Linked DNA regions of Homo sapiens: region 1 is linked to region 2. Evidence: fine-mapped expression QTL. A gene starts in region 2. The other region holds a variant in brackets. All regions are shown on one strand. Distances are from middle to middle. Region 1 holds the start of CD5 (CD5 molecule). Region 2 holds the start of SDHAF2 (succinate dehydrogenase complex assembly factor 2).

The links. PIP is the estimated chance that this variant, and not a neighbour inherited with it, causes the effect.
Region 1: its variant is fine-mapped to the expression of SDHAF2 in whole blood (INTERVAL, PIP above 0.99).

Annotation. Positions count from the first base shown.
Region 1 is chr11:61,098,722-61,115,227 of GRCh38, reverse strand. It overlaps CD5 (CD5 molecule), which reads right to left and starts at 12,739. Exons shown (of 11, transcript NM_014207.4): 1 at 12,613-12,739; 2 at 134-172. The coding sequence starts at 12,667. The variant C/A (reference allele first, on the strand shown) is at 8,252.
Region 2 is chr11:61,424,746-61,436,861 of GRCh38, reverse strand. SDHAF2 (succinate dehydrogenase complex assembly factor 2) reads right to left here and starts at 6,738. Exons shown (of 4, transcript NM_017841.4): 1 at 6,680-6,738. The coding sequence starts at 6,715. CPSF7 (cleavage and polyadenylation specific factor 7) reads left to right here and starts at 6,887. Exons shown (of 10, transcript NM_001142565.3): 1 at 6,887-6,948; 2 at 7,572-7,680. The coding sequence starts at 7,627. RefSeq lists enhancers at 6,608-6,667, 7,024-7,672 and silencers at 6,614-6,949, 6,808-6,977, 7,088-7,517.

The DNA of each region.
Region 1 (16,506 bases), 320 kb after region 2:
TTCACTCTCTCTATAGGGTGGGGTTCACTCTGGCAGAAGTGATGGCTTCATCGAGAGGTCCCCGATGGCCTGATGAAACCACAGCCCCACTCTCCCCCTGCCCCAGGCCTTTCTCCATGTGGCTCTTCCTTACCTGGGTCATACCAGCTGAGCCGTCCGAGGCAGGAAGCGACTGCAGAAAGAAGAGAGGAGGGTCAGGAAGTGAAACCTCCCACTCTCTCCCTTCTCCCCAGCTCACCCACCCACAGCCCGAGCAATGGCCCTTTCTGCCTCCCCCTATCCACTATCATGGGTTTTAGGGACAGGAATTTTCATACTCCAGGTTGGAACCCCTGAGTGATATGAATTCTATCTAGTGGGCTGCAACTATCGATTTTTTTTCTTCTTAAAAAACGTTACTTTTAAAATGAACAGACGTGAAATTGATTTTTCTTTACTGCATGATTCCGTGAATGTCACATATATAGATGTGTGTGACCACCATCACAATCAAGGTATACACCAGTTCCATTACTCCCTACCTCAAATTCCCTCATGCTAACCTTTGTAATAATGTAACCATCAATTATTATTATTATTACTTTTTGAGACAGGATATCACTCTCCTCACCCAGGCTGGAGTGCAGTGGCATGATCACAGCTCACTGCAGCCTCAACCTCCCTGGCTCAAAGAATCCTCCCACCTCAGCCTCTTGAGTAGCTAGGATTACAGGCATGAGCCACTATGCCTGGCTAATTTTTTTACTATGTATGTGTGTATGTATGTATGTATGCATGTATGTGTGTGTGTATGTAGAGATGGGGTCTCACTATGTTGTCCAGGCTGGTTTTGAACTCCTGGGCTCAAGTGATCCTCGTGCATCAGCTTCCTGAAGTGCTGGGATTCACATGTGTGAGCCACAGCACTCAGGCCATCAATTTTTTTAAAAATGAAATGGAGTAGAATAGAGAGGCCGTGCACGGTGGCTTATGACTGCAATCCCAGCACTTAAGGGGGCCAAGGTGGGAGGACCGCTTGAGCCCAGAAGTTGGACCCTGCAGTGAGCTATGATTATGCCACAGCACTCTAGCTGGGTGACAGAGTAAGACCCTGTTTTTTTTTGTTTGTTTTGTTTTAAATAAATAAAAAAGAGAATGTCAGAATGCACTGATCACTTTTTGTGTGTTGGGGGTTGCAATGTAAAAATGTCCCGCATGTTTCCACTCAAAAAAGTTTGAGCTCCTTAGTTCTAGAGAATGGAGAAATGATCCAGAAAGGGGCCGGGCACGGTGGCCCATGCCTATAATCCAAGCACTTTGGGAGGCCGAGGTGGGGGGATCACTTGAGGTCAGGAGTTTGAGACTGGCCTAGCCAATATGGTGAAACCCTGTCTCTACTAAAAATAACAAAAATTAGCTCGGCGTGGTGATGCATGCCTGTAATCCCAGCTCCTCTGGAGGCTGAGGCAGGAGAATTGCTTGAACCTGGGAGGTGGAGGCTGCAGTGAGCTGAGATTGCACCACTATACTCCAGACTGGGTGAGAGAGTGAGATTCTGTCTTTACAAGAAAAAAAAAAGGAAAGAAAGAAATGAGCAAGAAAGGGAACCAAGAGAACATTTGCTACTTTCTAGCATTCCCAAGGCAGGATAAGAATGACAGCCACTTATCTTTAACAGCTGCCCATTTCTGGAGAAGACCAAGCTCAAAGAGATGGCGTGACCTGCCCACAGTAGTGTAGCCAGCTAGTTGACAAGGGAGCCAAGGCGACAGGCCCAGGGAACACGGGTCTGCAGGGAACCAGCCTTCCCCCATGTGGACCACGTGGAAGCTCTGCCTCCTTGTAGCCTGGTCTCACTGTGGAGTGGGGGCAAAGTTGCCCATTGCGGGGCTCTCAGCAGAGCAGCTCATCTGTGGCTGGGGAAGAGGTTTAATTTGGGTGGGGACGAGGTGAAGTAGCAAGCTCACGTGGCTTCAAAGCTTAACCTCTGTATTCACCACCTAGCGTGATCAGTTAGGTGCAAGTACGGTATTTTGATTTCCATCTGTCCGACTTGGGTTTACTCTTGGATTTACGGCACTGGGTCAAGGAGACTGCTTTATATATTAATAGTGAAAGGCTGTGTTCAAATTGTTTGTGAGAAATTTTTGCTTGGTGTTAAAAAATAGGTGTGTTTAGCTGGGCCAATGGCTCAAGGCCGTAGTCCCAGCTACTCAGCAGGCTGAGGCAGGAAGATCACTTGAGCCAAGGAGTTCGAGTCCAGCCTGGACAACATAGCAAGACCCCGTCTCTTAAAAAATAGGTGTGCTTTGAAAAAGCTGTTCTTGCTTGAGTGTTCTCAAGCTGGCGGTTGAATTTTAAGGGGTGATGTGCTCCACAGTTCATCCTTGTCCCCGAATCAAGACTCTTTGTAATGAAGTCATCATGGCCATGTGATAAGTTTCCCCTGAATCTGCAAGATCCTTTCGTGGCTGTTGCTCTAGGAGTCACGGGCCTTGGAAGGGGAAGGTTATTCTCACCAACAGGGAAGTGTACAGAGCTCTGGCCTGGGTGGAAAAGGATGGTCTAGTTGTCAATCGTCTGATCAATTTTTTCTTTTTTTTTTGAAACAGAGTCTTCCTCTCTTGCCCAGTCTGGAATGCAGTGGCATGATCTTGGCTCACTATAACCACTGCCTCCCTGGTTCAAGCAATTCTCCTGCCTCAACCTCCCGAGTAGCTGGGACTACAGACATGCACCACCACGCCCGACTAATTTTTGTACTTTTAGTAGAGATGAGGTTTCACCATGTTGGCCAGGCTGGTCTTGAACTCCTGACCTCAGGTGATCCACCCCCCTCAGCCTCCCAAAGTGCTGGGATTACAAGCATGAGCCACCGCGCCCAGCCAATCATCTGATCTATTGCAGTGGGCAGGGCAGCCTCAGGAGGCCATCAGGGAGATGTCCAGCTAGCGAGAGAAATCAGGAAGGAGGCCCTTTTGTCCTGCCCTCACCTCTCACTCCTGACCTCTCATTCCCACCTCCCTCTCATCCCAGCTGCCCATCAGGAGCAGGGCAGTCTGCCTTGAAGGAGTCATCCCTCTGGCTAAGTCTCGAGGGCTAAGGCAGCTTGAAGTGCCACCTGTGGGGAGTGGGAGTCCAAATATCTGCCCTTCAGTGCTACACAGCTCAGGATGGGTTTTCAGTCACCGATGACTTTCTACTGCTCCAGTTCTGAGTATCAGCTCTGCCACTTCCTGCCTATAGAGTCTGGGGAGCACGTCTGTCCTGTCTCTGTGCCTCCAAGCCACGATTTCCTCACTCATAGCATGAGGATGAGCATGGGACTAGCTTTCTAGAGCCGTTGTGAAGATGAGATGAGCTAATCGGTGTAAAGGGCTTAGCCCAGTGCTTCCTGGCCTAGTGCTCAGAGCTGGTGCTACTGATCTGTGGAGTAGGGTGGGCTGGGGGAAGCTGTGCCCAGGGCAGCAGACCCTCGGGGAGCTTTCCCAGTGGGAAGATTCCCTGTCCAGGAGCACAGAGAGCCAAGCCATGGGGCTCACCACTTCCTTCTCCTAACTTGGAAACTTCGCGCAGATGGTCCAGACTTAGGGTGGTTCAACTTACGACTTTTCAAGTTTGCAATGGGTTTGTCGGGGTATTAAATGAATTTTTGACTTAGGATGTTTTCAGCTTACAATGGGTTTATTGAGAGGCAACCCCACTGTAGGTCAAGGAGCATCTCTATTTCCCGAGTCATCATACTCAACGTTCATTATTAACAGCAGCTGCCAACTGTTGAGCACCTGCTGCATACTTAGCCCACGGTATGGTTCATCACAGATATTGTTGTTAATCTTCCACACAGCCCCATCACGAGAGTTGAGTACGTTCCTGGTATAAATGTCAGGAGAGGGCAAATGCCCTGTCCCGGGTAATATGGCTGGCAGGTGGAGTCGAACCATGTGTCTGACTCCAAAACCCATGCTCTCTGCTCCCAGCCACCCAATTGCTCCTCCAGAGTGCCAGCTTTGGAGATGCAGAGATGAACACCACCTGGGTCTGACCTGGAAGCGCTCGTGCAGCCAGACCCTGAAGGCCTGGGGACAGGGACTGGGCCTGACAATCTTGGCAGATTCCACACAGAACAGCCTAGGTCTTGCTCAGAGAACATTCTCAGGAAAGACTGAACAAGCTGGAGAACCAAGTGAAATTCTTTAAAAAATGCTCTAACAAATGCTTTAATAAAAAAGATATTTATGCATTCTAGAGTGTCGCCCTGGAACCTTCCTCTGGGTGCCTGTCTGGTCCCCAGATGAGCAGCAGTTCCTCTCCTCTCCTTCCATCTCTATCACCGTCACCATCATCATCACCATCACCGTCACCATCATCATCACCATCACTGTCACCATCACCAACACTTTAAAAGTTTTCACTCTTCCGGGCCTTTTACACATTAACTCTCCCAGTCCTCACCACAGTGCTATGAAGTAGGTGCTATTATTTTGGTCCCGATTTTACAGACCAGGAAACTTGAGAGGGGTTAAATGACTTGTCCAAGCAGCTAATGAGTGCTGGGGCCCGAACTCAAACCTAGCCGCCTGGCACTGAGTCTTGAGCTTTTGCCAGTGAGGCCCAAACTGCCTCCCTTCCCTCCAGCAGGAAGCCCATGATGGCCTGCCCCAGGTTTCATTGATTCCTGCACCACCCTGGTGTGCAATCCTGATCAAAGGGAATGAACTTGTGATTCCGTTCAGTCAGTAAAACATGCAGTGAGAAGACTTAGCTATGAAGTGCTGTGTGACCTTGGCAAGCCACTCAGCCTCTCTGGGCTCAGTTTCTTAATCTGTAAAGTAAGGAAGTTAGATTCCACAGTCCCTCACCTTCCCCCTGGTTCAAACACCTGTGATCTATAATCTTTAGCTCCTGATGGATTTCAGCAGCTGGTGGAGGGAGGGCGGTGAGATGTACAGCTGACTTGGAAGCTTCCTGAGTGTGTTGTGTATATTCTTTCAGCCTGTCCATGAATATGTTCAGGTTTTTTTTTTATTTGCTTGTTTGTTTTTCACTTATAATCTAGGGAGCAGAATGAACATTGAGGTTTTGAGGGTCCATAACCTATTTCTATTTTTTAGTTGCTTCTCACAGGGGTCAGACCAGCACCCTCCATCCCCTGAGCCCTGCGGTCTGTGTTCAGGGTCTCCCTGACCCCCTCTGGGGGCTCTACAGCTTACTCCTGCACCATCCTTCCTAGCCTCATGAAGCCTGAGGCTCCTGCTATTGCCAAAACTGTGGACAGAATCCCCGAGACTCCAGACCAGGAGGCCCCCGAGGCCTGGAAGTGCTATGCCGTTTCCTTATCCGCCAGCCACCCCTCACCCCGAGCAACTGGGGCTACGGATGAGAATTCTCTGAAGACCCCTTCCTTCTCCTGCCCACCTCCCCTTGCAGCTCCCACAATTTAGGGCCTGGACTGGGCAAACCCAGGCAAAATTCAGGGCTAAAGAAGTCAGACGGCTTATCACACCCCTGGAGCTCCCGTCTCTTGTCTTTGCATTGGCAGAGACAATATTTTTGGCCCTGCCTGCCCTGAGGTCTTGGTGAGGATATCCTCCTCCCTGTCCCTCTCATTCCTCTTGCCCCCACAGTATTCAGGATAATTCTCACTTTGGCTCTCATTACGGCATCCCATGAGTTTTATTTGCTCTGCACAGTGTTTAAAAATTTTTTGAGCCAAATTAAAAAAAAAAAGGTTTCTTTTAATTTTGTTTTGCTTTTTAAACACATTTCAAGATCCAGGCGTTTTTGAAAAATAGGACATCCTGGCTCCACTGGCTGCATCTCTGGAGGCCCCAGGCAGTGGCGGTGGCCCTTGACTTCTGTTTCGTCCACGCCTCGCTGGCACCTTACGGTCGCCATGTGTGTGGAGAGACCTGGCTTCAAACACATGGCAGTGTCTGCAGCGAAACATATGCAGTTTCACACTAAGGGGGATGTGTCAAGATTATAAATAGCCTCCCATTCGTTCAGGTCAGGATTTGCACCAAATGCATTTGCCAGAAACTTACAAATGTTTTTTGGGCTTTGGAATTACAGATGAATATTTGTTGACTTGCATGATGGGTCCCAGTTTACAGAGGAGGAGGCTGTCGTGGTGCATGGGAGTGAGAACTCGGCAGGGCCAGAATTCAGCCCAGGGCGGCTGGCTTTGTAACCTGCACTCCTGGCCCCTGCCTCTGGCTCACTCCTAGGTCCTGCCGCCCCTGCACCCTGGGAAATGGAGGCAAGGGTGTGGCCTGCTTAGGGTTTGGCAGGCACCCGGATTCACAGGCCTGTGATAATGACCGATGATAATAAAATGACAGCATCCTTACCCTGTGCAGACCCCAGGACAAGGATTTTTCACAGAAGACCCCATTTCTTTCTAGAGCCTCAGAAGACGGGGTGCTATCACCACTTTGTTCCACAGATAAAACACCTATGACTGATTTAGTGTAGTTTGCAAGTCAGGTGTTCCCTTTTTCCCGTAAACAGTGATTCCTTCTAACAGTCCACAGACCTCCCCATAGCTACAGCCATCGATGTCCATGAAATACAATAGATCTGCCTGTGTTTTGGGTAGGATTCTGGATTTTCCTTCCTCGAATCCTATATGTTGGCTGACTTGAAAGGTCAGAAGCCCCTCTTTTCTGAAACGACAGTCATCTGTAGAGTTGGAGCTGTATCAGGGCTTTAGGGAAACGAAGGTCGTAAAGGACCAAAATTCCCTTTCTTGGGTTGAGCACAGATGAAATGATTGGTTTATGATTAGGCGGCTTTTATGTGCAAAACACATATAGAGTCACACTGGGCTTACACCAGGAGAGGCCTGGGAATGGAGCCCGCAGGAAGGAACAGCAGATTCAGGTCTCTAATCTGGCTCACCCAGGGCCTGTCCCAGTGAGCGGACAGTGGGTCGTGGGCAGAATGACCTTTGCTGTTTGAATTGTTATTTCTCTCTCCCACTAGTAGTCTGCTGTTGCATGAGTTTCGCACCATATACGGTGTCTCTGCTGTCACAGAGACAAGGCTTTGGTTTTGTTTAGAGCTTTACCTACCCCAAAGCTCTCTCATGCACTAGACTTGTTCTTTCTACCCACAGCCCTGTGAAGAAGGGACCATGCTCACCTCCATTTTCAGATCAGGAAACCGAGGTTCAGAGAGGCTGAGTGACTTGCCCAAGGTCACACAGCTAGCTGGTGGTAGAGTCAGGAGAGAAACCCTGTCTCCATCACCTGACAGGGCCTGTGGGAGTCTACCCCAGGGAGGCCCCAGAGCCTGCTTGCTCTGGAGTACAGATGGGGGAAACTGGGGCCAGAAGGAGGGAGGGGTTCATTCCAGATGTCTCTGTGGGAATCTGTGGCAGTGCATGGGACCCTTGTCGTCTCTGCAGACTGCCACCACCCATTTCCTACGCTATTCCTACCGTATCTGTCCCCCGGAGAGGAGTATTAGGGTCCCTCTGGACACCATGAAAGTCAGGCCTTGAAAGGTACATGATGGTGATGATGATGCTGGTCACGGTGATAGTGGTAGCTATAGAAGAAGTGATCCAGGCCCACAGTCTCTTATCTGCAATTCAAAATCCAGAATCTAAAAGTCTTGTTCTAATGCATTTGGTGGGAGGGTGTTTGCTGTCTTTACATCCCTCTAAGTGTGCAAATTCATGTTTCACTGCAGAAATGGGAATGTGTTGAACGCAGGGTGCTGCCCCAGGCCTCACTGCGTGTGTTAAGAGCACACAGTATGTACACAGTATTTCCTTCTACAATCTGAAAGCTTCTGGAGTTCCAAATGCATCTGGCCTGGGGTTCAAGATGCACTTGAGGACCTGGAGAGGTGAGAGTTATGCTCACCTCTCTGCTCCTGTGTGGCTGTCCAGTGCATGGGAGAAAAAGCCCAAGTCCTCACGGGGGCATCCGTGGCCCTCGTGGCTGCCTCATCGATCCCCCACTGACCTGCAGCTGGAGGCCCCTCTGCCTGCAACGCTTCTCCTCAGGTCCCACACGGTGGGCTCACTCCCTTCTTTCAAATATTGACTCAAATATCATCTTCTCATGAGAGCCGCTGAATCCTCCCCAGGTACCTCACACCCCACCAAGGCTTCCGGTCCCAGCCCTCCTCTATCTGTCTGTCTCCACACCTCTCATGACCGTCTAGTATTCGCATAATCACTAGCTTAGCTTGTGTCTTGTTTGTCTCCCCATCACACCCTGACTATTATGCCAGATCCACCAGGGCAGGGATTTTCCAC[C/A]GTTTTGTTCACTGCTGTGTCCTCAGCACTTAGAACAGCATCTGGCACATAGTAGGTGTTCAATCCATACCTAGTCTCTGAATAAACCCGATGTAATTATTGCAGTGATCTTTTGAGGTGGACACAGCAAGGAACCCCTATTTTTATAGATGAGACCCTGAGAGATGTTCACTTGTGGGTGGCCAAGCAGAAATCAAACTAGGTCTGCATTGCTCCAAAGCTCCCCTCCACAGGGCTGTGCACATATGTGTTCATACGCAAACACAGCACATGGACACACACACACACAGTAGATGTTCAATTTCACACACACACACAGAATAGATGTTCAATCAATTTTGTCAGGTTGAGCTGAATTCGCCGCCTGGTCACTGCAGGGAAAACCCCTCTGAACTGATGGTGACAGAGTGACCCAGGAAGGCCAGGTCCCTTCCTGGGCCCCCAGGTCCCTTCATTCCCTGCTGGAGGTGGGGAGCTCTGGGTCTTCGAGGAGGATGATCCAACCAGGGCCTCGCCCAGCCTGGGACAGTGGGCCTGCTGCCCTGCTCCCAGTAGGAGCCCCACCCTCTCAGGCCTGTCCTTCCCCCTTGCCTTTGCCCTGCCATCCGCTCTGCCTGGGACCCTCTTCCCTTTTTTCTCTGCCTGGCTGGCTCCGTCCCTCATTCAGGTCTCGGATTCTCAGATGAGACCTCGCCTCCTTAGAGAGGCCCTCCCTGCCTGCCCAGCCAAAGGGATGTCCTCCTATCCTAGTGCAGACTGTATTGTGCCTGAGGAACTTGCTGTTCTCCTCATTGCACTCAGTATTTCAAAATGTGTAAATATTTCGGGTGCCTTTTTTTTTTTTTTTTTTTTGAGATGGAGTCTTGCTCTGTTGCCCAGGCTGGAGTGCAATGGCGCGATCTCGGCTCACCGCAACCTCCGCCTCCCAGGTTCAAGCGGTTCTCCTGCCTCAGCCTCCTGAGTAGCTGGCATTACAGGTGCGTGCCACCACTCCCGGCTAATTTTTGTATTTTTAGTAGAGATGAGGTTTCACCATGTTGGCCAGGCTGGTCTTGAACTTCTGACCTCAGGTGATCCACCCGTCTTGGCCTCCCGAAGTGCTGGGATTACAGGCATGAGCCACCATGCCCGGTCTTTGGTGCTTGTTTACTTGTGTTCTCTAACAGCTCTCCTGTTAGCTGATCAAATCCTTGAGGGCAGGGACTCCTGCCTTGGTCCCTGTATCCCCAGTGTTTTGCACAGAGCTGGATGCACAGGAGATGCTCAATAATATTTGTAGATGAAAAATGAATGAATTAGTGAATAAATAGCCTGTGCAAGAGGATTGAGGGGTAGAGAGATTGACGGCTGTGCAGGCCTCTGGCAAGACCCTCCTCCCCATTGGCTCCTACCTCGCATTGTTTCTTGCTGACCCTGGTAATAATAATAATCATAGTTGTTGCTGTTATTATTGTTTATTGAGTACTTACTATACTATATGCCAGGATTGTACTTAAGCTCTGTGTGCATTGATTCATTGAATCCTTATAAGCCTCTATGAGGTACTGTTGCACCCAGTTTACGGATGAGAAAACTGAGGCTTACAGAACTAGTCCAAGGTCGCCCAGTTGGTAAGTGGCAGACTGGAATTCAAACTGCAGAGTCCATGACTTTCCCACGTCCCAGTGCTGGCTTTCAGAGTCGCATCGGCTAGGCCAGTCAGGGACGTGCAGTTTGTGTTAGAGCCGCTTCCCCGCCTCACTGCCAGCAGCTGTCCAGGCAGGCTGGGGCTGAGAGGGGAGCAACTGTGGGAAGCCCTGGCCTGTCACTAGCACCCAGGCCTGCTGGGGGCATCTTCATGCCTCAGGATCCAAAGGTCCCCAAGCCCCGATGCCAGCCAGGAGGCTGTGGTGTCCCCAGGGCTCTGGCATTGCTGCCTCTCTCCTTGGAATGGCTCAAAGGGTGCCTGCACTGTTTGACTCCAGCAACCCTGGCCCTTGGTGTCCCCAGCTCTGGTGGCTGTATCTCTGCTGGTGGAGGTTGTGTCCCAGGGCCATTTTCCTGCACACGGAAGTGCCTTTGGTGGCCTTCCCTTTTAGCTAAGGGAGGGGCCTCTGTGAAGGCAGGAATGCTGGGCTGGGGTCAGCTCGGCTGTGCACCAGCTGCTGCACCCTGGGTTTGCACTCGGCCTTCCTGGGCCTCGCTTTTCCCCACTGTAAAATGGGGCCAATGGGCCCACCTACTTCATTGGCTGTTGTGAAGCTTGCAGCAGAAAATGGCTTTAAAAGTGCTTTGTAAACCGTTACCCACTGAACAAAGGGAATGCTTGGTACCCACCGGCTCACTCAGACACTGGGAACTGAGTATTCCTGGGGTTCAAGGAGGTCCCCATACTGGGGTGAAGGGGCTACCTCCAAGTCTTCCTGACTGTGGCCTGTGTTGGGCCAGGGGACTTGCCTGGTGCCATCAGGAGCCTCACCCATGATGGGATTCAGTTGGGAGGGCCCTAGAGCAGGACACGGGTTCCCATACTCAGCTGGGAGCCGCCCTATCTCAATGAAGTCTGAGGCCAGAGGTGAGGAGCAGGTGGGGGGTTTAAGGGCCTGGTCCCTCCTTAGCAGGGTCCCTGAAGCCAGCCAGAGGTCTGTCTCAGGCCTCTTACTTTGGGACAGAAGGCATTTTGTACCTGTTGTTGTTACATGTGAGAAGAACCATGTGAACATGTGTGCACAGGTGCCATTGTCACATGTGTTGGGGAGATAATCCTGCCTTTGGAGGCCGCATTGTGCTCATGAAAGCACACACACACAGTTCTCACACACATGCGCACAGACTCCCACACACAGACTCACACACAGACTCACACACAGACTCACACATTCCCCCCACACAGTACTCACACACATGCCCAGAGACTCACACACAGACTCACACACAGACTCACACATTCCCCCATACACAGTTCTCACACACATGAACACAGACTCACACACAGACTCACACGCACAGACTCACACTTTCCCCCCCACAAAATACTCACACACATGCCCAGAGACTCACACACAGAGTCACACATTCCCCCCCCACACACAGTACTCACACACATGCCCAGAGACTCACACACAGACTCACACACAGACTCACACATTCCCCCCCACACAGTACTCACACACATGCCCAGAGACTCACACACAGACTCACACATTCCCCCCCAGACAGTACTCACACACATGCCCAGAGACTCACACACAGACTCACACACAGACTCACACATTCCCCTACACACAGTACTCACACACATGCCCAGAGACTCACACACAGACTCACACACAGAGTCACACATTACCCCCCAACACAGTTCTCACACACGTACACACAGACTCACACAGACACACATAGACTCACACATTCCCCCACACACAGTTCTCACACACATGCACACAGACACACACACATGCATTCCCCCACACTCACACCTGCACACCCGGTTTCCCTAGAAGGCTGCTGAGGCTCCCTGCTCAGGCAGGCAAGGCCTCCGGACCCTCTCCCTGCCAGCCTGGAAGCTGCTCGCATCCTCCTGTTTCCAGCCCAGAGTCACGCACCTCTGTCACCCTGCCAGACCTTCTAAATCCTCAGGAAGTGGGTCAGGCCTCATCCAGTTCACACCCCCAACCCCCACATTTCATAAATGGGGAGATCAAGGCCTGGAGAGGCTTGGGGACCTATCCGAGGTCACACAGGGTTGGGCTTACAACCCAGGGCTGGAGTGAGAGCAGGCCCAGCGTGTACTCATCCCAGCCGGCCTGGCTGGGCCCCTCTGGGACTGACCCAGGACTGGGCATGAGAGGGCCTAGGACTTCCGCTATGAGTCCTTGACATTTGCTCAGACATCGTCCTCAGAGGCGGCTCCACCCTGCCTCGGCCCACTGTCTGTCCAGAGCATCATCAGAGCTGCCTCGGAGACGGCGAGTTTCCATGTCTCTGGAGGCGACCAAGTAAAGGCTGGGCTGTCAGTGGGGGACCTCGCAGAGGGAGGCCTGAATGCTCTGCTAAAATCCAACTCAGCCTAGGAATCAAGTTGTCTGGGCCCCATCAAATGCGGGTCCCCCCTGCAGTCTCTCTTGCACTGGAAGGGTAAAGCAGGGTTCTCAACAGCGCATGAGAGAGGCAAGGTTGTGCTCCTGGCGGGTGGGACATGCAGGACAGAGGGCCAAGCTGCGGCTTAGTGGGGGCAGGCAGGGATCCCAGTGGCCCCAAATCTCCACAACGCTCCAGAGGGCTGACATGTGGATCCCAGAGTCAGCCTTGGGTAAAACTGGGAACTCCTTCCTTGCACTGGAGCGAGCCCGGGTGTTCGCAGGACACCTGGGAGGGGTACTCACCCAGCATCCCCAGCAGGTACAAGGTGGCCAGCGGTTGCAGAGACCCCATGGGCATGGTTTCTGGCCTTCTCTTGCCTCAGCCTGGGCAGCTGGGCACCGCAGGTGAGGGTGTCTGGCCGGGTATCTCGCTCTCAGAGAGGGAGAGGGCGGGGTGGCGTGCTCAGGGAGGGGTGGGACGGGGAGCAGGCAGTGTGGGGCCTGCGTCACCCATGTTTGAAGTTGAACTGTCAACTTCCTCCTGGCAAAACCACCTGCCCCTGTTTGAATGGCAGCCCTGGCCTCTGCCAGCTTCCTGCCCAAGGTACCCAGGGCTGGGGCAGTGCTCTCGGCCACCCCCACACAGGACAAGGCCATGCATCCTGGAGGGACAGGGCTGCAGGGGGTGGGGACCCTGAGCGGGGGTTACGGAGGCTGAAGGCCTGGCTGCAGCTGAGGGCTGGGCTGAGGACAGGCGTCCCTGAGGCAGGGGTCTGGGTGGGGAGAGGCGGGAAATGGGCAGCATGATGCCAGTTCTTGTTGCAGACTCCAGTGAAAGCCAAAACCAAACCCTCCATTCCCCCTTTGTGAGGGATGAGGTTGGAAGTTTGAGCTGACTTTCCACAGGTGGTGTTTTGCTAGCAAGTACAAGAGATGGCTGCGCCATGAATGCTGGGCTTGTGCCAGTGTGTGTGTGTGTGTGTGTGTGTGTGTGTGTGTGTGTGTGTAGAGAGAGAGAGATCTCCATGTTGACTTGTGTGATCTCTGTGTTGTGTGTGTCATCTCTGTGTTGTGTGATCTCCATGTTGAGGTGTATGTGTGAGCTCCATGTTGAGTGTGTGTGATCTCCATGTTGATGTGTGTGTGAACTCCATGTTGATGTGTGTGTAATCTCCATGTTGACGTGTGTGATTTCTGTGTTGTGTGTGATCTCCATGTTGATGTGTGTGATTGTGATCGCCATGTTGATGTGTGTGTGATCTCCATGTTGATGTGTGTGTGTGATCTCCATGTTGATATGTGTGTGTGATTTCCATGTTGTGTGTTTGTGATTTCCATGTTGATGTGTGTGTATGATCTCCATGTTGACTTGTGTGATCTCTGTGTTGTGTGTGTGATCTCCATGTTGGGGTTGATGTGTGTGTAATCCCCATTTGATATATGTGTGTGTGATCTCCATGTTTGTGTGTGTGAATGTGATCTCCATGTTGATGTGTGTGAATGTGATCTCCATGTTGACGTGTGTGTGTGATCTCCATGTTGATGTGTGTGTGTGATCTCCATGTTGATGTGTGTGAATGTGATCTCCATGTTGATGTGTGTGTAATCTCCATGTTGATGTGTGTGTGTGATCTCCATGTTGATGTGTGTTTGTGATCTCCATGTTGATGTGTGTGAATGTGATCTCCATGTTGATGTGTGTGTGATCTCCATGTTGATGTGTGTGTGTGATCTCCATGTGGATGAGTGTGTGATCTCCATGTTGATGTGTGTGTAATCTCCATGTTGATGTGTGTGTGTGATCTCCATGTTGTGTGTGTGTGATCTCCATGTTGATGTGTGCGAATGTGATCTCCATGTTGATGTGTGTGTAATCTCCATGTTGATGTGTGTGTGTGATCTCCATGTTGATGTGTGTGTGTGATCTCCATGTTGATGTGTGTGAATGTGATCTCCATGTTGATGTGTGTGTAATCTCCATGTTGATGTGTGTGTGTGATCTCCATGTTGATGTGTGTGTGATCTCCATGTTGATGTGTGTGTGATCTCCATGTTGATGTGTGTGAATGTGATCTCCATGTTGATGTGTGTGTAATCTCCATGTTGATGTGTGTGTGTGATCTCCATGTTGATGTGTGTTTGTGATCTCCATGTTGATGTGTGTGAATGTGATCTCCATGTTGATGTGTGTGTGTGATCTCCATGTTGATGTGTGTTTGTGATCTCCATGTTGATGTGTGTGAATGTGATCTCCATGTTGATGTGTGTGTAATCTCCATGTTGATGTGTGTGTGTGATCTCCATGTTGTGTGTGTGATCTCCATGTTGATGTGTGTGTGATCTCCATGTTGATGTGTGTGTGTGATCTCCATGTTTATGTGTGTGAATGTGATCTCCATGTTGATATGTGTGAATGTGATCTCCATGTTGTGTGTGTAATCTCCATGTTGATGTGTGTGTGTAATCTCCATGTTGTGTGTGTGTGATCTCCATGTTGATGTGTGTGAATGTGATCTCCATGTTGATGTGTGTGTGTGATCTCCATGTTGATGTGTGTGAGTGATCTCCATGTTGATGTGTGTGTGTGATCTCCATGTCGTGTGTGTGTGATCTCCATGTTGATGTATGTGTGATCTCCATGTTGATGTGTGTGTGATCTCCATGTTGATGTGTGTGTGTGATCTCCATGTTGTGTGTGTGTGATCTCCATGTTGATGTGTGTGTGATCTCCATGTTGATGTGTGTGTGTAATCTCCATGTTGTGTGTGTGTGATCTCCATGTTGATGTGTGTGAATGTGATCTCCATGTTGATGTGTGTGTGATCTCCATGTTGATGTGTGTGAGTGATCTCCATGTTGATGTGTGTGTGTGATCTCCATGTCGTGTGTGTGTGATCTCCATGTTGATGTGTGTGTGTGATCTCCATGTTGATGTGTGTGAATGTGATCTCCATGTTGACGAGTGTGTGTGATCTCCATGTTGATGTGTGTGTGATCTCCATGTTGATGTGTGTGTGATCTCCATGTTGATGTGTGTGTATGATCTCCATGTTGACATGTGTGATCTCTGTGCTGTGTGTGTGATCTCCATGTTGGGGTTGATGTGTGTGTAATCCCCATTTGATATATGTGTGTGTGATCTCCATGTTTGTGTTGTGAATGTGATCTCCATGTAGATGTGTGTGAATGTGATCTCCATGTTGATGTGTGTGTAATCTCCATGTTGATGTGTGAATTTGATCTCCATGTTGATGTGTGTTTGTGATCTCCATGTTGATGTGTGTGAATGTGATCTCCATGTTGATGTGTGTGAATGTGATCTCCATGTTGATATGTGTGAATCTCCATGTTGATGTGTGTGTGTGATCTCCATGTTGATGTGTGCGAATGTGATCTCCATGTTGATGTGTGTGTGTGATCTCCATGTTGATGTGTGTGTGATCTCCATGTTGATGTATGTGTAATCTCCATGTTGATGTGTGTGTGTGATCTCCATGTTGATGTGTGTGATTTCCATGTTGATGTGTGTGTGTGATTTCCATGTTGATGTGTGTGTGTGATCTCCATGTTGACTTGTGTGATCTCTGTGTTGTGGGTGTGATCTCCATGTTGGGGTGTATGTATGAGCTCCACGTTGATGTGTGTAATCCCCATTCGATATGTGTGTGTGATTTCCATGTTGATGTGTGTGATCTCCGTGTTGAGGTGTGTGATCTCCATGTTGATGTGGGGTATGTATGTGAGCTCCGTGTCCCTGTTGCTCTTAGAGGGTCTGGAATCATCCCCCTTGAAGAAGAGGCAGGGTCTCTGCAAAGAAGATGGGAAGCCCGGGGCAGGGGAAAGTCCCTGTGTTTCCCTGGGCTGGGCTGGGTTCCGTTTTTTCCTCACATCCTTTGTGCTCCCAGATGAGAAAGCTCCTGGCTCCTTGGGCTTCCTGTACTCTGGGCCACCCCAGGCAGGTAGGAAGTAGTTCAAGGACGTGATCACTGGTCCAGGTCCACTAGGGCCTGGGGCCTCCCCATCCCTGGGCTGGAGAGGCTGGCTCAGTGATGCCTCCACTTAGATTCCACTTAGACCTGTAGCAGGACAAGCCACAGACAAAACCCCTCAGACACCAAGTTAAAGAAAGAAGGGGTTTATTCAGCCGGGAGCATCAGCAAGACTCCTGTCTCAAGAGCTGAGCTCTCTGAGTGAGCA
Region 2 (12,116 bases):
GTGGTGACCTCAGCAAGAGGTGAAGATGGTGGAGTAGGAAACCCCAGATCCTCCTTCCCCGATGGAGACACTGAGCCAACAGCAACAAACAAACCAATTCCCTGTGAGAAATCCAGAAACCAGTAAGAGGCTCCTGCTCCCCAGGTGAGCACAAAACCAGCTGCATCGAATCCAGCAGAAAAATTTGTAGCACTCATTTGCCATAGTCTCTTCCCTCCCTGCTCAAGCATGATCATGAGATAACCCCCAGCTCCTAGCTTCTACCTGAGACAGAAAGAGAAGACTGAAAAGTATGTATAATGTTCGGACTTTTGGGGGGATCAGGTTTCTGTTTTGTTTGAATCTAAGTGCTAACAGAAAAGGGCAGCAGGTTGAGGGAGAACAAAGAACCATGGAGAACAAAGGTGACAGTTTAGACTGGCAAGCACTCACTCCCTCATCACTCATCCTTGGCTCAGTGCAGAACAAGCAGGAGAAAACTCCCACCTCCCAGCTTCTCCCTAGGGAGGGAAACAGGTGCAGTATGCATCCAACATTCTAGCTTTTTGGGGCTCTCTGGGGGACTGGTTTCTGTCTCTAAGCACTTGAAAGGATCTAGCACACTCTAAATGCCTGGGTGGCCTGCTGCTGATCCAGAGGATCCCTGAAACTGCAGAGAAAGGCCAATACAGCCCAGTGGCCTCTCCCAGGGTTGAGGGGAGTGGAGTGTGCATCTAATATTCTGACTTTTTTTTTTTTTGAGACGGAGTTTCGCTCTTGTTGCCCAGGCTAGAGTGCAATGGCGCGATCTCGGCTCACCACAACCTCCGCCTCCCAGGATCAAGCAATTCTCCTGCTTCAGCCTCCCGAGTAGCTGGGATTACAGGCATGCCCCACCACGCCCGTCTGATTTTGTATTTTTAGTAGAGACAGGGTTTCTCTATGTTGGTCAGGCTGGTCTCGAACTCCCGACCTCAGGTGATCTGCCTACCTTGGCCTCCCAAAGTGCTGGGATTACAGGCGTGAGCCACCACACCCAGTCGTAACATTCTGTCCTTTGGGGAAGCTACCAGAGGGACTGGTTTCTGTCTTGCCCAGCTTGGGGCACTGATGGGACATGGCATACTCTAAAAGTCTGGAGGCCACCGACAGCTGGGAGACTTGTAGCAGCTCCAGAGAAACTGCAGTATCATACGCAGACACTAGAGGGAGCAAGAGATTATGGGCTCCTGAAAAAGGAAACCGGCAAATCCCTCTAAATGGGAATTTACATCCGCAAGTCCAGAAAAGACACATCCTCAGTAAAGGATTGAGAGGCCCTTGGAATCTCTATCCATGCTGACTAGTGAAGGCCAATCACCAGTACAAAGACCAGGAGAGACAGATGATTTTTCAAATGTAGAAATCACCAGTACAAGTTACCAAGCACATGAATAAAGAGGAAAACATGGTCCTATTAAAGGAACGAAATACATCTCCAGAAACTAACCTTAAAGAAACAGAAGTATATGAATCACCTATAAAGAATTCAAACTAGCCATAATAAAGATGTTCAATGAGCTTTGGAACATTGAGAACTTGAACATTGAGCTTGAACAAAATGAGAAAACCAAAAAAAAGACAGAAAACATTAAAAAATAACCAAATGAAAATTTTGGAGCTGAAGAATACAGTAACTGAATTGAAAAATTCACTAGAGGAGGCCAGGCACGGTGGCTCATGTCTATAATCTTAGCACTTTGGGAGGCTGAGGCTGGAGGATCGCTTGAGCTCAGGAGTTCGAGAACCAGCCTGGGCAACACAGTGAGACCCCGTCTCTAAAAAATAAAAATACATAAAAATTAAAAAATTAGGCCCGGCGTGGTGGCTCATGCCTGTAATCCCAGCACTTTGGGAGGCCAAGGCGAGTGGATCAAGAGGTCAGGAGATCAAGACCACCCTGGCTAACAATGGTGAAACCCCGTCTCTACTAAAAATACAAAACATTAGCCGGGCATAGTGGCGGGCGCCTGTAGTCCCAGCTACCTGGGAGGCCTGAGGCAGAAGAATGGCGTGAACCCAGGTGGCGGAGCTTGCAGTGAGCTGAGATCGTGCCACTGCACTCCAGCCTGGGCAACAGAGCGAGACTCCGTCTCAAAAAAAAAAAAAAAATTAAAAAATTAAAATAAATTAAAAAATTCACTAGAGAAAATCAATAGTAGACCTGATCAAGCAGCAGAAAGAGTCAGCAAACTCAAAGACTGGTCATTTGAAATTAGTCAGGGTTTTTTCTAAAAAAAAAAAAAAAAAAAGGAATGAGAAGGAGTGAAGAAAGCCTTAGGGACTCCATCAAGGAGATCAATATACACATTATGAGAGTCGTATAAGAGAAAGACAGGGGCAGAAAGCTTATTAGAAGACATAATTGGCTGGTCTCAGTGGCTAATGCCTGTAATCCCAGCACTTTGGGAGGCTGAGGTGAACGGATCACCTGAGGTAAGGAGTTCAAGACCAGCCTGGCCAACATGGCGAAACCGTCTCTACTAAAAGTACAAAAAGTAGCCAAGCATGGTGGCGCGTGCCTGTAATCCCAGCTACTGGGGAGTCTGAGGCAGGAGAATTGCTTGAACCCAGGAGGCAGAGGTTGCAGTGAGCTGAGATTGTGCCATCGCACTCGTCTCAGTGATAGAGTGAGACTCCATCTCAAAAAAAAAGACATAATGGCTAAAAACCCCCAAAGTTGGGGAAAGAAGTGGACATCCAGATTCAAGCCTAACAGATCTCAATTAACATGAACCCAAAGAAGTCCATACTGCGACGTATTTTAATCAAACTGTCAAAAGTCAGAAAAAGCTGGGTGCAGTGGCATGACCCTATAGTCCCAGCTACCTGGGAGGCCGAGGTGGGAGGATTGCTTGAACCCAAGAGTTAAAGTACAACCTGAGCAACAAAGCAAGATCCTATGTCTTTAAAAAGTCACAAAAGAGACACCAAGGATGTGCATGCACAGAGAAATGTGAGGACACAGTGAAAAGGTGGCCATCTGCAAGGCAAGGAGTGAGGCCTCGAAAGAAACCAAACCTGCCAACACCTTGCTCTTGGACTTCTAGCCTCCAGGACTATGAGAAAATTAATTTCTGTTCTTCAAACCACACAGGTTATAGCAGCCCTAGTAAACTAATACAGCATGCGATGAAAATTCAGATTCCCAAGCCCCACCATAAACATTCTGGATGAGAATCTCTAGGACTGGGCCCTGACGAATGAATTTTTAACAACCCTCTAAGAGATTCTGATGCAGACTGAAGGCAGGGATTCCTACTTTCTATACTAAAATAACATGATTGAGTAATTTCTACAGAAATGAATGCGGATGGGGAGGACTATCCTCATCAGTACAAGGAAATTGTTCTAATAATTGGGATGTCTTATTATTTTAGCCAAATTTCACCCATTTTTTTCTGTTAGTATCAAGGCAGCATTCCATAAAAGAAACAATAATGGTTGTCACATAGTTCCAGGGAATTGTGTGATACTGGTATGAGTTGTGTTAAATTATCACTGGAGGCCGGGTGCGGTGGCTCACGCCTGTAATCCCAACACTTTGGGAGGCTGAGGTGCGCGGATCACGAGGTCAGGAGATGGAGACCATCCTGGCTAACACAGTGAAACCCCATCTCTACTAAAAATACAAAACATTAGCCAGGCATGGTGGCGGGCGCCTGTAGTCTCAGCTACCCGGGAGGCTGAGGCAGGATAATCGCTTGAACCCAGGAGATGGAGGTTGCAGTGAGCCAAGATCGCGCCACTGCACTCCAGCCTGGCAACAGAGCGAGACTCCGTCTCAAAAAAAAAAAAAAATTAAATTAAAAAAATATATAGAGAGAGACAAGTACAGAATACTATAATACTGTAACTGTGGTATGTAAGTCACTTTTAATTTTGGTATAGAAATTAAAGACAAAGGTATAAAAACAACTATAAAAATTTGTTAATGGAGACAATATAAAAAGATGTAATTTGTGACATCCACAACATACAAGGGGGTCATAAAAGAGCAGAGTTTTTGTATGCAATGGAAATTAAGTTATCAAAACAGATTGTTATGTTTTATATAAGCCACATGGTAACCACAAAGAAATACCTGTGTAAGACACACAAGGAAATGAGAAATTCGTTTCTCAAAGTATGTCACTACAAAAAAAAAAAAGTCAACGAAATATAAAGGATGACAAGAGTGGAAAAGAGGAGCAAAAAGGTTGTAAGACAGAGAACAGTTTACAAAACGGCAACAGCAAGCACAGTTGGCCCTCCGTATCTGTGGGTTCCACACCTGTAAATTCAACCAACTGCACACTCAACCAACTGTGGATCAAAAATATTCAAAAGAAATAAATAATACAACAATTAAAAAACAACTAAGATATAGTATAACAAGCATATACATAGCCTTGACATTGTTTTCGGTATTATAAGTAATCTAGAAATAATTTAAAGGATATGGAAGTATGTGTGTAGATTATATGCAAATACTATGCCATTTTATATAAGAGACTGAGCTTCTGCAGAGTTTGATATCCACAGCGGATCCTACAACAGTCATCCCATGGATACAAAGGGATGATTGTACTTCCCTATTTTATTTATTTTTTGAGACAAGGTCTCACTTCCAATGCCCAGGCTGGAGTGCTGTTGCAAAATCAAGGCTCACCGCAGCCTTGACTTCTCAGACGCACTCCCGCCTCAGCCTCTCAAGTAGCTGGGACTACAGGTGTGTACTACCACACCTGACTAATTTTTTTTAGTAGAAAAGGGGTTTTGCCATGTTGCCCAGGCTGGTCTCGAACTCCAGGACTCACACGATCCACCCACCTCGGCCACTATTTACTTTAGGTATAAATGGATTAAACTCCAGGCCTGGCGCGGTGGCTCACGCCTGTAATCCCAGCACTTTGGGAGGCTGAGGCGGGCAGATCACGAGGTCAGGAGATCGAGACCATCCTGGCTAACACGGTGAAATCTCGTCTCTACTAAAAATACAAAAAATTAGCCAGGCGTGGTGGGGGGCGCCTGTAGTCCCAGCTACTCCTAAACCAGGAGATTGGCGTGAACCCAGGAGGTGGAGCTTGCAGTGAGTCGAGATCATGCCACTGCACTCCAACCTGGGCGACAGAGCGAGACTCTGTCTCAAGAAAATAACATAACATAACATAACCTCCCCAACCAAAAGACATGAAGTGGCTGAATATAATGAATTAAAAAAAAGATTCAACTATATGCCGCACAAGAGACATTTTATTAAAATCTGGAAATCAATGGCAAAAGAAAAGGTGGAAAATTCACAAATATGTGGAAATTAAACAACACACTCTTGAACAATCAATGAGTCAAAGAAGACATCAAAAGGAAAATTAGAAAATATCTTGAGACACGCCGGGAATGGTGGATCACACCAGTAATCCCAGCACTTTTTGGAAAGCTGAGGCAGGAGGATCACTTGAGGCCAGGAGTTTGAGACCAGCCTGGGCAACATAGTGAGAACCTGTCTCTACGAAAAAAAGAAAAAAGAAGGGAAACAACAGGCCGGGCGCGGTGGCTCACGCCTGTAATCTCAGCACTTTGGGAGGCCGAGAAGGACGGATCACCTTAAGTCTGGAGTTCGAGACCTGCCTGGCCAACAAGGTGAAACCCCATCTCTACAAAAATACAAAAATTAGCCAGGCATGATGGCGATGCCTGTAATCCCAGCTACCTGGGAGGCTGAGGCGGAAGAATCGCTTGAACCCGGTAGGTGGAGGTTGCAGTGAGCCAAGTTCGTGCCATTGCACTCCAGCCTGGGCGACAAGAGCAAAACTCCGTCTCAAAAAAAAAAAAGGAAAACAACAAAAAACAAACAAAAAGGAAATATCCTGAGACAAACTAAAACCCAACATATACAAAATTATGAGATGCGACAAAAGCTGTACTAAGAAGGAAGTTTATAGTGTAAACGCCTACATCAAAAAAGAATAAAGATCGAGTCCCTGGGTCTGCAGGAAAAAAAAAAAAGAATAAAGATAGGGATGGGGGTAGGAGGGGAAGATAGAGGCAAAGTTAGTTACTTTATAACAGCAGGCTAGGAAAAAAGAATAATAAGTTCCAGTGTTCTATTACATATTAGAGTGACTACAGCTAATAACACTGTACTGTATATGTCAAGATGCTAGAAAAAGATCTTGAAAAGTTATTACCGTAAATAAATGATAAAGATTTGAGGTGATGGACATGCTAACTACGCTGATTTGATTATTCGATGTACACATGTATTAAAACATTATACTGTACCCCCATAAACACGTACAATTATATGTCAATTATAAACAAACAAAAAGCTGAAGATACTATGTGAAACCACGAAAAGCATTAAAGACTAAAGAACGGGGAGAAGGGGAGCCCAGGGAAGTTGGGCTAATCCCGCCTGGGACGTAGGTGAGAGGCGAATTGGGTCTTGGACGATGACTGATCGTTTAAGCAGATATTTCCAGACCGGCACACAGTAGGCTCACCAAAGAATGGAAGCGACCTTTATTTCCTGAGTTGCAGGATCGGCCTCTCCCTGGGCCTGCCCTTGCCCTGCGCTATCGGGCAGACGAACTCTCCCCAAGATAGAGACCACAGAGGAAGACAAAGGGTAATCCCCGCTGCCGCCCGCCCCGGACGCTAGAACGTTCTCTCTCCTCACCAGCGACGAAGTCGAGAACACTGTAGACACCGCCATTTTCCCCACCTGCACCGGAAACCGGCTGCGCGGGCACTTCCGGGAACTCCTAGCCGCCCGGCCAGCCGACCACGGCAGCCACGGAGGAGCTGAGCCGGAAGGTGCGTCCCTGCGCATGCCGGAAGTGGCGGTGCGTGTGACGCCGGCGGCGGGGGGGGCGGGACCTGGGGCGGAGAGCGGTTCGCGCGCTTCGGGCCTAGTCCGGACTCGCCGCCGCCGCCGCCATATTCCCGGTAACGGGGGCGCGCGGTCGGGGGCAGGTTGGGCCGGAAGAGGGGTCCGGGCCGGCACTGAGGCGGGAAGGGGGTCGGTTGAGATGGGACGGCCGGAGTCTGCGGGCGGAGGGAGTCGCGGGCCTTTTGAGGGAGGAGGCAGAGCGCGCCGGGCCGGGTTTGTCGGGAGGGAGCGGGGCGGGCCTAGCTGGGGGCGAAGAGTAGGCCTGGGTTGGGGGCAGAGGCGGCTGGAGCTGCTTGACACCTGGGGGCTCTGGCCGGAGCCGCCTTGGGGGCTAGGCAGGTGCAGCGGATAGGGGCTGCGGGCTTCGCCGCGGTCATTCTTCGCAACGCCGTCCTAGGGCCACTAGGACCCGAGGGTGGGACTTTTCCGTCGCGCCATAGGCAGCTGCGGCGCAGACGCGGCGCTACCCGGGTCGGGCCCGAGGGTGATGGGCAGCGACCCCCGGCGGCCTGGGAGAGCGGTGGGCGGCGCGAGGCCGGGGGCGGGGCGGAGCGGGTGGGGCCGAGCTGGGGCCGCCAGGATGCTGCGTCTCTGGAGATGGGAGGTTAGCAATCATTACCCTCTTCCCAGCCCAGGACCCTCGTGCCTTCTAATTCTTGCATTTTTCCGAATCCCGCAGTGGCATCTTCCTTACTTTGTCCATCCTCCGGACTCGCGATCTTCCTTCCGGAGCCATGTCAGAAGGAGTGGACTTGATTGATATATATGCTGACGAGGAGTTCAACCAGGTGAGGTGTCATCAGGAGCTTTGGGATTTTCCTTGATCATCTGAGGAATCATTTTCAGCAAACTGGCAGTGGTTTCAAGCTGTACCAGTCCTAGGCTTGAACACGCGTCTATCCGGTCTAAAATTTTTCTCCTGCAGAAACTTTAAAGACTACACTCCATTCCTCTTTATGTTAATTTGAAGCTCCAGGCTTAATTTTAAAGGCTTTGATTTAAGAGCAAATAAAAAGCAGGTGTAATAGAATGGTGAATCAACCTGTGGAATTTACTCCCCAGGAAGCCAAAGGTGGGTGTCAGACTAACCACACTTAAAAATCAAAAGTACATTTGCTACGGTATTCATGAGGACAGTGTTGATACCGGTTCCTTTACATTCTCAACCTGCAGCTGGAGAAGTGTAGTCCCCTCCATCGTGACAGTGCAAAAGCAAAGTAGAAAAGATGACTTTAACATTTAGTTTCAACTCCATTCCAATTAAGTTTTACTTCCTTTTATAAGTAGGTTGACTCCAGTCATGAGAAGTCCACAGGCATTTTGGTATAATAAATTGTATTGGTTACCTTTAGTCTTTCTAGAGGGAATAAAAGAGTAAAGACGTTAGACAAACCAGTTAGAAAACTGATAATAGACCCATGCACATACCCTCAGTTGGATTTGTTTTTATTGTACCAGGGAACATTATACAGAAATTTATCTAGAGCTGGGCAAGGTGGCTCTTGACTGTAATCTCAGCTGCTCTGGAGCCTGAGATGGGAAGATTACTTAAGACCAGAAGTTCAATACCAGCCAGGGCAACATACCAAGACCCAGTCTACAAAAATGTAAAAAAAAACAACAACGAGATATGGTGGCTTGTGCCTGTAGTCCCATCTACTCTGGAGAGTGAGGCAAGAGGTACTCCCTGAGCCCAGGAATTCAAGGCTGCAGTGAGCCATGATTGGGCCGCTGCACTCTATCCTGGGCAACAGAACAAGACCCTGACTCTTAAAAACACAAGAAAAATTCTCTCAAAGAAATAATCTTCCATGCAGTTAAGTTTTTCAGTCTTGAGGTCAATTCTCAAGAATGTTCCAAAATTTCTATTGAAAACGTACTAATATCTTGCCTGGGTTATTTTCAGCACCATTCTATGTAAGTAAGCTGGCTCTTCCCATTTGCATCTTCCAGTGGGTACACATAAGGACCTGGTAAGAGCATGTATTGAATGGGTTAGAAAGGGAAAGTTCCCTGGTTTGACCCTGACTTTGATATGAGGCAACAGAAGAGGCGGATACATGCCATTTATTTTTCACTTGGCATAAGTTTACATGAAAATCTATTTTTTGATGTATTATGGTTTTATAACATGGAAATTATAAACCATACACAAAAGCAGAATAATGTAATGACCTTGTACCCATTATACAGCTTCACCAATTATACTTTTTAATGGCAGGTTTCTTGTCTCTGTTGTGGTTAACTGTGGTCCTTTAAATATAGCTGCTGATTATCTTAAATAGATGAATTTTCCTTTTTTTTTTTTTTTTTTCTTGAGACAGAGTCTCTCTCTGTCACCCAGGCTGGAGTGCAGTGGCGCGATCTCGGCTCACTGCAACCTCTGCCTCCCAGGTTAAAGTGATTCTCCTGCCTCAGCCTCCTGAGTAGCTGGGACTACAGGCGTGGGTCACCTCACCTGGCTAATTTTTGTAATTTTAGTAGAGACGGGGTTTCACCATGTTGGCCAGGTTGGTCTCGAATGCCTGACCTTGTGATCCGCCCGCCTTAGCCTCCCAAAGTTGGGATTACAGGCGTGAGCCACCGTGCATGGCGAAAAAATTTTTTAGTTTTAAATAAGTCCAATAATTATGGATAAAAGAGAAAAGTTCTAGATGTTAATTTAGTTACAAAATCATTGTTTTCCTGAGTTTTCCATATTCATTTGAATCAGACTTTTAATACCTTAAAAAAAAAAACACACAGTCTTGCTGTGTTGCCTAGGCTGGTCTCTCAACTCCTGAGCTCAAGCGATTCTCCCACTTCAGCCTCCCAAACTGTTGGGATTATAGGTGTGAGCCACTCTGCCCAGTTCAGACTTTTTGCAGATTATGTTTTTCCCCCACCAAGATAACAAGAGCGGTCCTTAGTTCTTCTCTTTTTTTTTTTTTTTTTTTTTTTTTTGAGACAGAGTCTCTCTTTGTCGCCAGGCTGGAGAGCAGTGGCACCATCTTGGCTCGCTGCAACCTCCTTTTCCCAGGTTCAAATGATTCTCCTGCCTCAGCCTCCTGAGTAGATGGGACTACAGGCGCGCGCACCGCCATGCCCAGCTAATTTTTGTATTTTTAGTAGAGACGGGGTTTCACCATGTTGGCCAGGATGGTCTCAATCTCTTGACCTTGTGATCTGCCCACCTCGGCCTCCCAAAGTGCTGGGATTACAGGCGTGAGCCGCCGTACCCAGCCACCTTTGTTATTAATGAAAAGCTTTTCCCCTTCTAATTTCTTATCTGTGGATTGATAATAGTGCCATTCATTTCACTTTGAGAAATACGCAGAACTCATTGTCCAGTGGTCACTGCTTTGTTAGAGTATAAGTTATTGGCCTCAATAGTTTGTTCTCTGGTCTCCTCAGTTAAAAAGGACTTTTTTATGGGTCTAAGACAGGCTAAAGGTAGTATGTGGACTTTAATAGATACATATATCCAACGGGCAATATTTGACACTAGGCAAGCTGAAGAAAGTGTGAATTTTGAATATCTTATGTTTTGTGGAAGGTGAGGGATGAGTGCTTCCCCCCCACACACATATCAATTAGTTATTTTTGACAAAGTTAGTGTTAGTGTCATCTGGAAGCTACAGAAATTATTTAAAAAACAAAAAAACAAAAAAACTTTGGCTAGAATTGTTAGAAGCTGGCTTAGTCTGAAGGCACCCAGTACAAATTGTGTTTTAGAATGTTTTAAGAATGTTACTGATTTCGCCCCAAGCTGGCCCATGCACAGGAAGCCCTTCATGTGCACTTTGCTCCTCAAGGAAAATTAATATTTTTCCTAGATGGAACCCTATGGTGCTTATTCCCTGATCTCTTAGAGCATTTGCTGCAAAAGCCTGTTTTTGCCAGAGCTACTTTATTCCTGTAACACAGGGAGTCCTGGGATTCACATTGGCTCTCTTGGGCCAGGGAGAACTCTGGAAAGGTGACTGAGATCAGTTGCTCTGCTGGGAGTTTTGGCTTTTCATACTGAGACAGGCTTTGCACAGTGTCCAGTTCTCTTCCTTATGTCCATCAATAAGTATTTATTTATTGAGCTACTTGTGTTTGCTAAGCACTGTGCCAGGACTAGTGAGGTAAAAGGAAAAAAAAGTGGGTCCCTGTACTCAAAACAGATTCCACTCCTGGTGGGTAGGGGTGGTGGACAACGACAATGTACAGTGAAGGACAAGGAGGGTGTGAAGTGGGAACTGTGGAAATGGTCATTATAAAGCCAAAATTTTTGATTAAGCCTTGGTTACAATTAAAAGAAACAATGGTATCAAGTTGGTTGCTCTGAGAAAAATAAATCCTAGGCTAGTTACTTCCCTCAGTGGGATATGAGGAAGAAGAGGGTGGAGGTTAGGAACACTGAGCAGACAAGTGGAGAAGATCTTATTTAAATTGAAAATCACACATGTTCTCTTTTGTTTACAGGGAAGCAGGAAGTTTCATGAGACAGTCACAGTTCTTTCTGTGCCATTAAACACAAAATTCTTTGAGATAGTTATTCAGTATTAAATATATGTTTCATGTTTAATCTCCCTGGAATGAAACTTTGAACATCAGTGCATGTAAAATGTACTTTTCACTTAATTTGTAGAATTTGATTTTACTTTAATCTATTACTGCATAAATCCGCTGAGAAAAATCTCCGGCCCTTAACTGTGTTTCTGTCTTACTAGCTGAACAAGTAAAATGAATTGTGATGCTGGGGGATTAAAATCCAAACAATTTGATACCTTGTTTCTTCAGTAGAACCCTCAACAGACCTGCCCTGTGCAGTTCCCACCAGCTTCTTTGAACTGAGGCTCTGTGGCCCAGAGAGACCATTTAAATCTTGTGATAATTTTGTATTCATTCAATCCTTTTGTTTCTAAAAGTGGTAGCCATACCAAGATTCTCCAGGATCTAGTCTATCCTATTCTTAAGGGATCTTAAAACAGTGGATTGGTTGCCTAAGCATATAGTACGAAGGGTTTCCTGGTGATGCATTTGGTCTCTGAGCTGTCCAAATCTGCATGTTAGTCCACTACTCAATTTTCAGTGATCATTTTTACATTACAAATTTTAGACACATATACCTGAATTACAGATACTGCATGGAAGGGAATCTCAGTTTGGTTCCATTCGATTATCCAAGATGATGTGTTTCCTTATTCTGTTTACGTGTCATTTGAAAATCCTTGATTTAAAAAAAAAGAAGGCTGGG